2 linked regions of the Homo sapiens genome follow. The protein of the gene in region 1 purifies or fractionates together with the protein of each later gene. This does not show direct contact. Each region holds a gene or a part of one and is shown in the gene's direction. Other genes may lie near its edges. The genes, in order: PROC and PROS1.

Region 1 (3,819 bases):
GGGAGGATTGCTTGAGCTTGGGAGTTTGAGACTAGCCTGGGCAACACAGTGAGACCCTGTCTCTATTTTTAAAAAAAGTAAAAAAAGATCTAAAAATTTAACTTTTTATTTTGAAATAATTAGATATTTCCAGGAAGCTGCAAAGAAATGCCTGGTGGGCCTGTTGGCCTGTGGGTTTCCTGCAAGGCCTTGGGAAGGCCCTGTCATTGGCAGAACCCCAGATCGTGAGGGCTTTCCTTTTAGGCTGCTTTCTAAGAGGACTCCTCCAAGCTCTTGGAGGATGGAAGACGCTCACCCATGGTGTTCGGCCCCTCAGAGCAGGGTGGGGCAGGGGAGCTGGTGCCTGTGCAGGCTGTGGACATTTGCATGACTCCCTGTGGTCAGCTAAGAGCACCACTCCTTCCTGAAGCGGGGCCTGAAGTCCCTAGTCAGAGCCTCTGGTTCACCTTCTGCAGGCAGGGAGAGGGGAGTCAAGTCAGTGAGGAGGGCTTTCGCAGTTTCTCTTACAAACTCTCAACATGCCCTCCCACCTGCACTGCCTTCCTGGAAGCCCCACAGCCTCCTATGGTTCCGTGGTCCAGTCCTTCAGCTTCTGGGCGCCCCCATCACGGGCTGAGATTTTTGCTTTCCAGTCTGCCAAGTCAGTTACTGTGTCCATCCATCTGCTGTCAGCTTCTGGAATTGTTGCTGTTGTGCCCTTTCCATTCTTTTGTTATGATGCAGCTCCCCTGCTGACGACGTCCCATTGCTCTTTTAAGTCTAGATATCTGGACTGGGCATTCAAGGCCCATTTTGAGCAGAGTCGGGCCGACCTTTCAGCCCTCAGTTCTCCATGGAGTATGCGCTCTCTTCTTGGCAGGGAGGCCTCACAAACATGCCATGCCTATTGTAGGAGCTCTCCAAGAATGCTCACCTCCTTCTCCCTGTAATTCCTTTCCTCTGTGAGGAGCTCAGCAGCATCCCATTATGAGACCTTACTAATCCCAGGGATCACCCCCAACAGCCCTGGGGTACAATGAGCTTTTAAGAAGTTTAACCACCTATGTAAGGAGACACAGGCAGTGGGCGATGCTGCCTGGCCTGACTCTTGCCATTGGGTGGTACTGTTTGTTGACTGACTGACTGACTGACTGGAGGGGGTTTGTAATTTGTATCTCAGGGATTACCCCCAACAGCCCTGGGGTACAATGAGCCTTCAAGAAGTTTAACAACCTATGTAAGGACACACAGCCAGTGGGTGATGCTGCCTGGTCTGACTCTTACCATTCAGTGGCACTGTTTGTTGACTGACTGACTGACTGACTGGCTGACTGGAGGGGGTTCATAGCTAATATTAATGGAGTGGTCTAAGTATCATTGGTTCCTTGAACCCTGCACTGTGGCAAAGTGGCCCACAGGCTGGAGGAGGACCAAGACAGGAGGGCAGTCTCGGGAGGAGTGCCTGGCAGGCCCCTCACCACCTCTGCCTACCTCAGTGAAGTTCCCTTGTGGGAGGCCCTGGAAGCGGATGGAGAAGAAGCGCAGTCACCTGAAACGAGACACAGAAGACCAAGAAGACCAAGTAGATCCGCGGCTCATTGATGGGAAGATGACCAGGCGGGGAGACAGCCCCTGGCAGGTGGGAGGCGAGGCAGCACCGGCTGCTCACGTGCTGGGTCCGGGATCACTGAGTCCATCCTGGCAGCTATGCTCAGGGTGCAGAAACCGAGAGGGAAGCGCTGCCATTGCGTTTGGGGGATGATGAAGGTGGGGGATGCTTCAGGGAAAGATGGACGCAACCTGAGGGGAGAGGAGCAGCCAGGGTGGGTGAGGGGAGGGGCATGGGGGCATGGAGGGGTCTGCAGGAGGGAGGGTTACAGTTTCTAAAAAGAGCTGGAAAGACACTGCTCTGCTGGCGGGATTTTAGGCAGAAGCCCTGCTGATGGGAGAGGGCTAGGAGGGAGGGCCGGGCCTGAGTACCCCTCCAGCCTCCACATGGGAACTGACACTTACTGGGTTCCCCTCTCTGCCAGGCATGGGGGAGATAGGAACCAACAAGTGGGAGTATTTGCCCTGGGGACTCAGACTCTGCAAGGGTCAGGACCCCAAAGACCCGGCAGCCCAGTGGGACCACAGCCAGGACGGCCCTTCAAGATAGGGGCTGAGGGAGGCCCAAGGGGAACATCCAGGCAGCCTGGGGGCCACAAAGTCTTCCTGGAAGACACAAGGCCTGGCCAAGCCTCTAAGGATGAGAGGAGCTCGCTGGGCGATGTTGGGTGTGGCTGAGGGTGACTGAAACAGTATGAACAGTGCAGGAACAGCATGGGCAAAGGCAGGAAGACACCCTGGGACAGGCTGACACTGTAAAATGGGCAAAAATAGAAAACGCCAGAAAGGGCCTAAGCCTATGCCCATATGACCAGGGAACCCAGGAAAGTGCATATGAAACCCAGGTGCCCTGGACTGGAGGCTGTCAGGAGGCAGCCCTGTGATGTCATCATCCCACCCCATTCCAGGTGGTCCTGCTGGACTCAAAGAAGAAGCTGGCCTGCGGGGCAGTGCTCATCCACCCCTCCTGGGTGCTGACAGCGGCCCACTGCATGGATGAGTCCAAGAAGCTCCTTGTCAGGCTTGGTATGGGCTGGAGCCAGGCAGAAGGGGGCTGCCAGAGGCCTGGGTAGGGGGACCAGGCAGGCTGTTCAGGTTTGGGGGACCCCGCTCCCCAGGTGCTTAAGCAAGAGGCTTCTTGAGCTCCACAGAAGGTGTTTGGGGGGAAGAGGCCTATGTGCCCCCACCCTGCCCACCCATGTACACCCAGTATTTTGCAGTAGGGGGTTCTCTGGTGCCCTCTTCGAATCTGGGCACAGGTACCTGCACACACATGTTTGTGAGGGGCTACACAGACCTTCACCTCTCCACTCCCACTCATGAGGAGCAGGCTGTGTGGGCCTCAGCACCCTTGGGTGCAGAGACCAGCAAGGCCTGGCCTCAGGGCTGTGCCTCCCACAGACTGACAGGGATGGAGCTGTACAGAGGGAGCCCTAGCATCTGCCAAAGCCACAAGCTGCTTCCCTAGCAGGCTGGGGGCACCTATGCATTGGCCCCGATCTATGGCAATTTCTGGAGGGGGGGTCTGGCTCAACTCTTTATGCCAAAAAGAAGGCAAAGCATATTGAGAAAGGCCAAATTCACATTTCCTACAGCATAATCTATGGCCAGTGGCCCCCCGTGGGGCTTGGCTTAGAATTCCCAGGTGCTCTTCCCAGGGAACCATCAGTCTGGACTGAGAGGACCTTCTCTCTCAGGTGGGACCCGGCCCTGTCCTCCCTGGCAGTGCCGTGTTCTGGGGGTCCTCCTCTCTGGGTCTCACTGCCCCTGGGGTCTCTCCAGCTACCTTTGCTCCACGTTCCTTTGTGGCTCTGGTCTGTGTCTGGGGTTTCCAGGGGTCTCGGGCTTCCCTGCTGCCCATTCCTTCTCTGGTCTCACGGCTCCGTGACTCCTGAAAACCAACCAGCATCCTACCTCTTTGGGATTGACACCTGTTGGCCACTCCTTCTGGCAGGAAAAGTCACCGTTGATAGGGTTCCACGGCATAGACAGGTGGCTCCGCGCCAGTGCCTGGGACGTGTGGGTGCACAGTCTCCGGGTGAACCTTCTTCAGGCCCTCTGCCCAGGCCTGCAGGGGCACAGCAGTGGGTGGGCCTCAGGAAAGTGCCACTGGGGAGAGGCTCCCCGCAGCCCACTCTGACTGTGCCCTCTGCCCTGCAGGAGAGTATGACCTGCGGCGCTGGGAGAAGTGGGAGCTGGACCTGGACATCAAGGAGGTCTTCGTCCACCCCA
Region 2 (3,819 bases), on another chromosome or scaffold:
TCTAATTTACCCAATATTTATTCATCTATTATTCAGTTCATCTTATCATTTATCCAGCTTTTTTTTTTTTTTTTTTTTTTTTTGAGATGGAGTCTGGCTCTGTCGCCCAGGCTGGAGTGCAGTGGCACGATCTCGGCTCACTGCAAGCTCCGCCTCCTGGGTTCACGCCATTCTCCTGCCTCAACCTCCCGAGTAGCTGGGACTACAGGTGCCCGCCACCACACCCGGCTAATCTTTTTGTATTTTTAGTAGAGAGGGGGTTTCACCGTGTTAACCAGGATGGTCTTGATCTCCTGACCTTGCGATCCGCTCGCCTCGGCCTCCCAAAGTGCTGGGATTACAGGCGTGAGCAGTGACAATAGTTGTAGTATCTAACTACCATCAACTATTGCAAAACAAACAGTCTGGGCACTGTTTAACGTGCTTCAAATATATCCACTTGTTTAATTTTCAAAATAGTCCAGTGAGGTAAGTGCTATTATTATCCCCATTTTACAGATGAGGAAACTGAGGAAGCTGCAGGACCAGGGTGATAACAATGAAGATGATGGACAGTAAATAGATCGGAGATATGTGTTAGAAACAAAATTAATAGGATTTAATAACTGAAAGACAGGTATAAGGATGACTTTTAGGTATCTGGCATGAGCAGTTGCATGGATGGAGATTCCATTTACCAAGATGGGGAAAACTGGAGGAAAAACAGATTCATCTTTAACTGAATATTGGAAAATATGAAATTGGCACCAATATTTCACTTTAAATGGAAAATTAGAGGCAGAAAGTTATTTAGAAGCATTTTCAGATGACATTTGCAATTTATTCTCATGGGGAGAATTCTGAGTTTGATGTCTGGACCTCTGATAACCTTCAATATACTGCTTAAACTGCTCATGGTCTTGATTTCCCATATATGGAAATTGTATCTGGGGTTTTGGGAAATAGAAGTAAATAGGCTTTAAAAGCTATAGAAAGACAGACAGATAGATAGATGATAGATAGATAGATAGATAGATAGATAGATAGATAGATAGATAGATAGATAGAGGTAAGTAGTGAGCATGCCTAATTATTAGGGAGTAAAATTATAGTTTAAATGAATAAATTCTATATTGAAATCTACCTACTACCTTATCCACAAGTTAGTTGAATGCAATTTTAGGAAATCAAACCAACAAAGAGTTTAAAAGAAGTAGAATTATCAAAATTTCAGTGGTTTCGGGATTTTGGCAACAGCACTGAGGACTAACTTCAGGCAAAATGTCTTGAGAGAAAGAGTGGGGAAGATTTGAGAGGAGCTAAATATTGAGATATTAAGAGTATAAACTGTGAGATGGGTAAATTATTAATTACATGCAAAGTAGGCATGTAAAATTCCATGTGAAGTACTAAAACCCAAGAGAAATGAATGATTTTGAGTAATTTCTTTCCTCAAAATCGAATGAATTTGAGTAATTTCTTTTCTCAAAAAAGGAAAAGTGGCATAATCTATGATGTTTAGCCCAACTTGAAAGGGATTCTTAACAAATGCTATGAGCTCACAGTCATAGTAAAGTAGGAACTTTATTCACTGTGTTGGCAAGTTAGAAGTTGAAAATTTAAAGGTTTTTTTTTGGCATAAGGTACTGAAGATGAAGAATAAGGGCTAAAGAATATCCATTGTGAGTTAAGATTAATGGAGAGGAGAGGCCAAAAAAGAGGAAGGAAAATTGTTATTTTTAGGAACTCTAAATAGTACATGAAAGTGAATCCTGTATCATGACCTATTGTATGCTCAACAAAAAAATTGTTTCTTTGGAAAAATACAGAAATCTGCTTTTATTCCAACAATAATAAAAGAGATATATTGATCATGACATTTAAAAGAGATTCCCAAGTAGCTATAATTTGGAGTTAAGAAAATGATTTAACAATGCTTAAACTGTTGCTTAAGTTTAAAGAGAAAATAGTATGTTATTTGTATAATAAAAATAGAATATCACAAGAATATGCTTGTTTCTACTCTCCCTCAAATGTGTTTAAGTTTAAATGGAACTAATTGTGTTTATGAAATCTGAGGAACTCATGACATGCTGAATTCAATGAAGTACAGTAACATGTATATCGGCGTCACTTAACATGTATTTATGGAATAGAATTTCACTATTAACTTTTCCTTTAGGATTAGAATTTGGTTGGAAACAGGAAGTCTGAATGACTTCTCTCACTGTAAACAAACAAGATGCTAAAAGTCTTGGACTAATATTCTAATATTTTCCTTTTACAGATGTTCCATTCAGTGCCACACCAGTGAATGCCTTTTATAATGGCTGCATGGAAGTGAATATTAATGGTGTACAGTTGGATCTGGATGAAGCCATTTCTAAACATAATGATATTAGAGCTCACTCATGTCCATCAGTTTGGAAAAAGACAAAGAATTCTTAAGGCATCTTTTCTCTGCTTATAATACCTTTTCCTTGTGTGTAATTATACTTATGTTTCAATAACAGCTGAAGGGTTTTATTTACAATGTGCAGTCTTTGATTATTTTGTGGTCCTTTCCTGGGATTTTTAAAAGGTCCTTTGTCAAGGAAAAAAATTCTGTTGTGATATAAATCACAGTAAAGAAATTCTTACTTCTCTTGCTATCTAAGAATAGTGAAAAATAACAATTTTAAATTTGAATTTTTTTCCTACAAATGACAGTTTCAATTTTTGTTTGTAAAACTAAATTTTAATTTTATCATCATGAACTAGTGTCTAAATACCTATGTTTTTTTCAGAAAGCAAGGAAGTAAACTCAAACAAAAGTGCGTGTAATTAAATACTATTAATCATAGGCAGATACTATTTTGTTTATGTTTTTGTTTTTTTCCTGATGAAGGCAGAAGAGATGGTGGTCTATTAAATATGAATTGAATGGAGGGTCCTAATGCCTTATTTCAAAACAATTCCTCAGGGGGAACAGCTTTGGCTTCATCTTTCTCTTGTGTGGCTTCACATTTAAACCAGTATCTTTATTGAATTAGAAAACAAGTGGGACATATTTTCCTGAGAGCAGCACAGGAATCTTCTTCTTGGCAGCTGCAGTCTGTCAGGATGAGATATCAGATTAGGTTGGATAGGTGGGGAAATCTGAAGTGGGTACATTTTTTAAATTTTGCTGTGTGGGTCACACAAGGTCTACATTACAAAAGACAGAATTCAGGGATGGAAAGGAGAATGAACAAATGTGGGAGTTCATAGTTTTCCTTGAATCCAACTTTTAATTACCAGAGTAAGTTGCCAAAATGTGATTGTTGAAGTACAAAAGGAACTATGAAAACCAGAACAAATTTTAACAAAAGGACAACCACAGAGGGATATAGTGAATATCGTATCATTGTAATCAAAGAAGTAAGGAGGTAAGATTGCCACGTGCCTGCTGGTACTGTGATGCATTTCAAGTGGCAGTTTTATCACGTTTGAATCTACCATTCATAGCCAGATGTGTATCAGATGTTTCACTGACAGTTTTTAACAATAAATTCTTTTCACTGTATTTTATATCACTTATAATAAATCGGTGTATAATTTTAAAATGCATGTGAATATCTTTATTATATCAACTGTTTGAATAAAACAAAATTACATAATAGACATTTAACTCTTCATACAACGAAGTAGTTCTTCAGTTAAAAGACAGATAAAGCTCCAATATTTGAATAATATTTATGGTTGGGTGGTAGACTGGAGCTCAGAAGGTGAAGAGAAGCAAAAGTAACATGTATCTTTTGACACAAACCATAAATTGTCTTGCTAAATATAATTTGTTTCCCAATTGCCACCAGGTACTAT

The links.
Region 2: the proteins of PROC (region 1) and PROS1 purify together in Homo sapiens (affinity purification with mass spectrometry; one large-scale study listed by BioGRID and IntAct). This does not show direct contact.

What each region holds. Positions count from the first base shown.
Region 1 is NC_000002.12:127,424,610-127,428,428, forward strand, and holds part of PROC (vitamin K-dependent protein C isoform 10 preproprotein), read left to right. Parts: intron 1-90; exon of another isoform or gene 91-1,475; coding exon 1,476-1,618; exon of another isoform or gene 1,619-2,495; coding exon 2,496-2,613; exon of another isoform or gene 2,614-3,655; intron 3,656-3,747; coding exon 3,748-3,819. UniProt on the Homo sapiens protein: Protein C is a vitamin K-dependent serine protease that regulates blood coagulation by inactivating factors Va and VIIIa in the presence of calcium ions and phospholipids. Exerts a protective effect on the endothelial cell barrier function.
Region 2 is NC_000003.12:93,872,853-93,876,671, reverse strand, and holds the end of PROS1 (vitamin K-dependent protein S isoform 2 preproprotein), read left to right. Parts: intron 1-2,266; coding exon 2,267-2,427; 3' UTR 2,428-3,621; downstream 3,622-3,819. UniProt on the Homo sapiens protein: Anticoagulant plasma protein; it is a cofactor to activated protein C in the degradation of coagulation factors Va and VIIIa. It helps to prevent coagulation and stimulating fibrinolysis.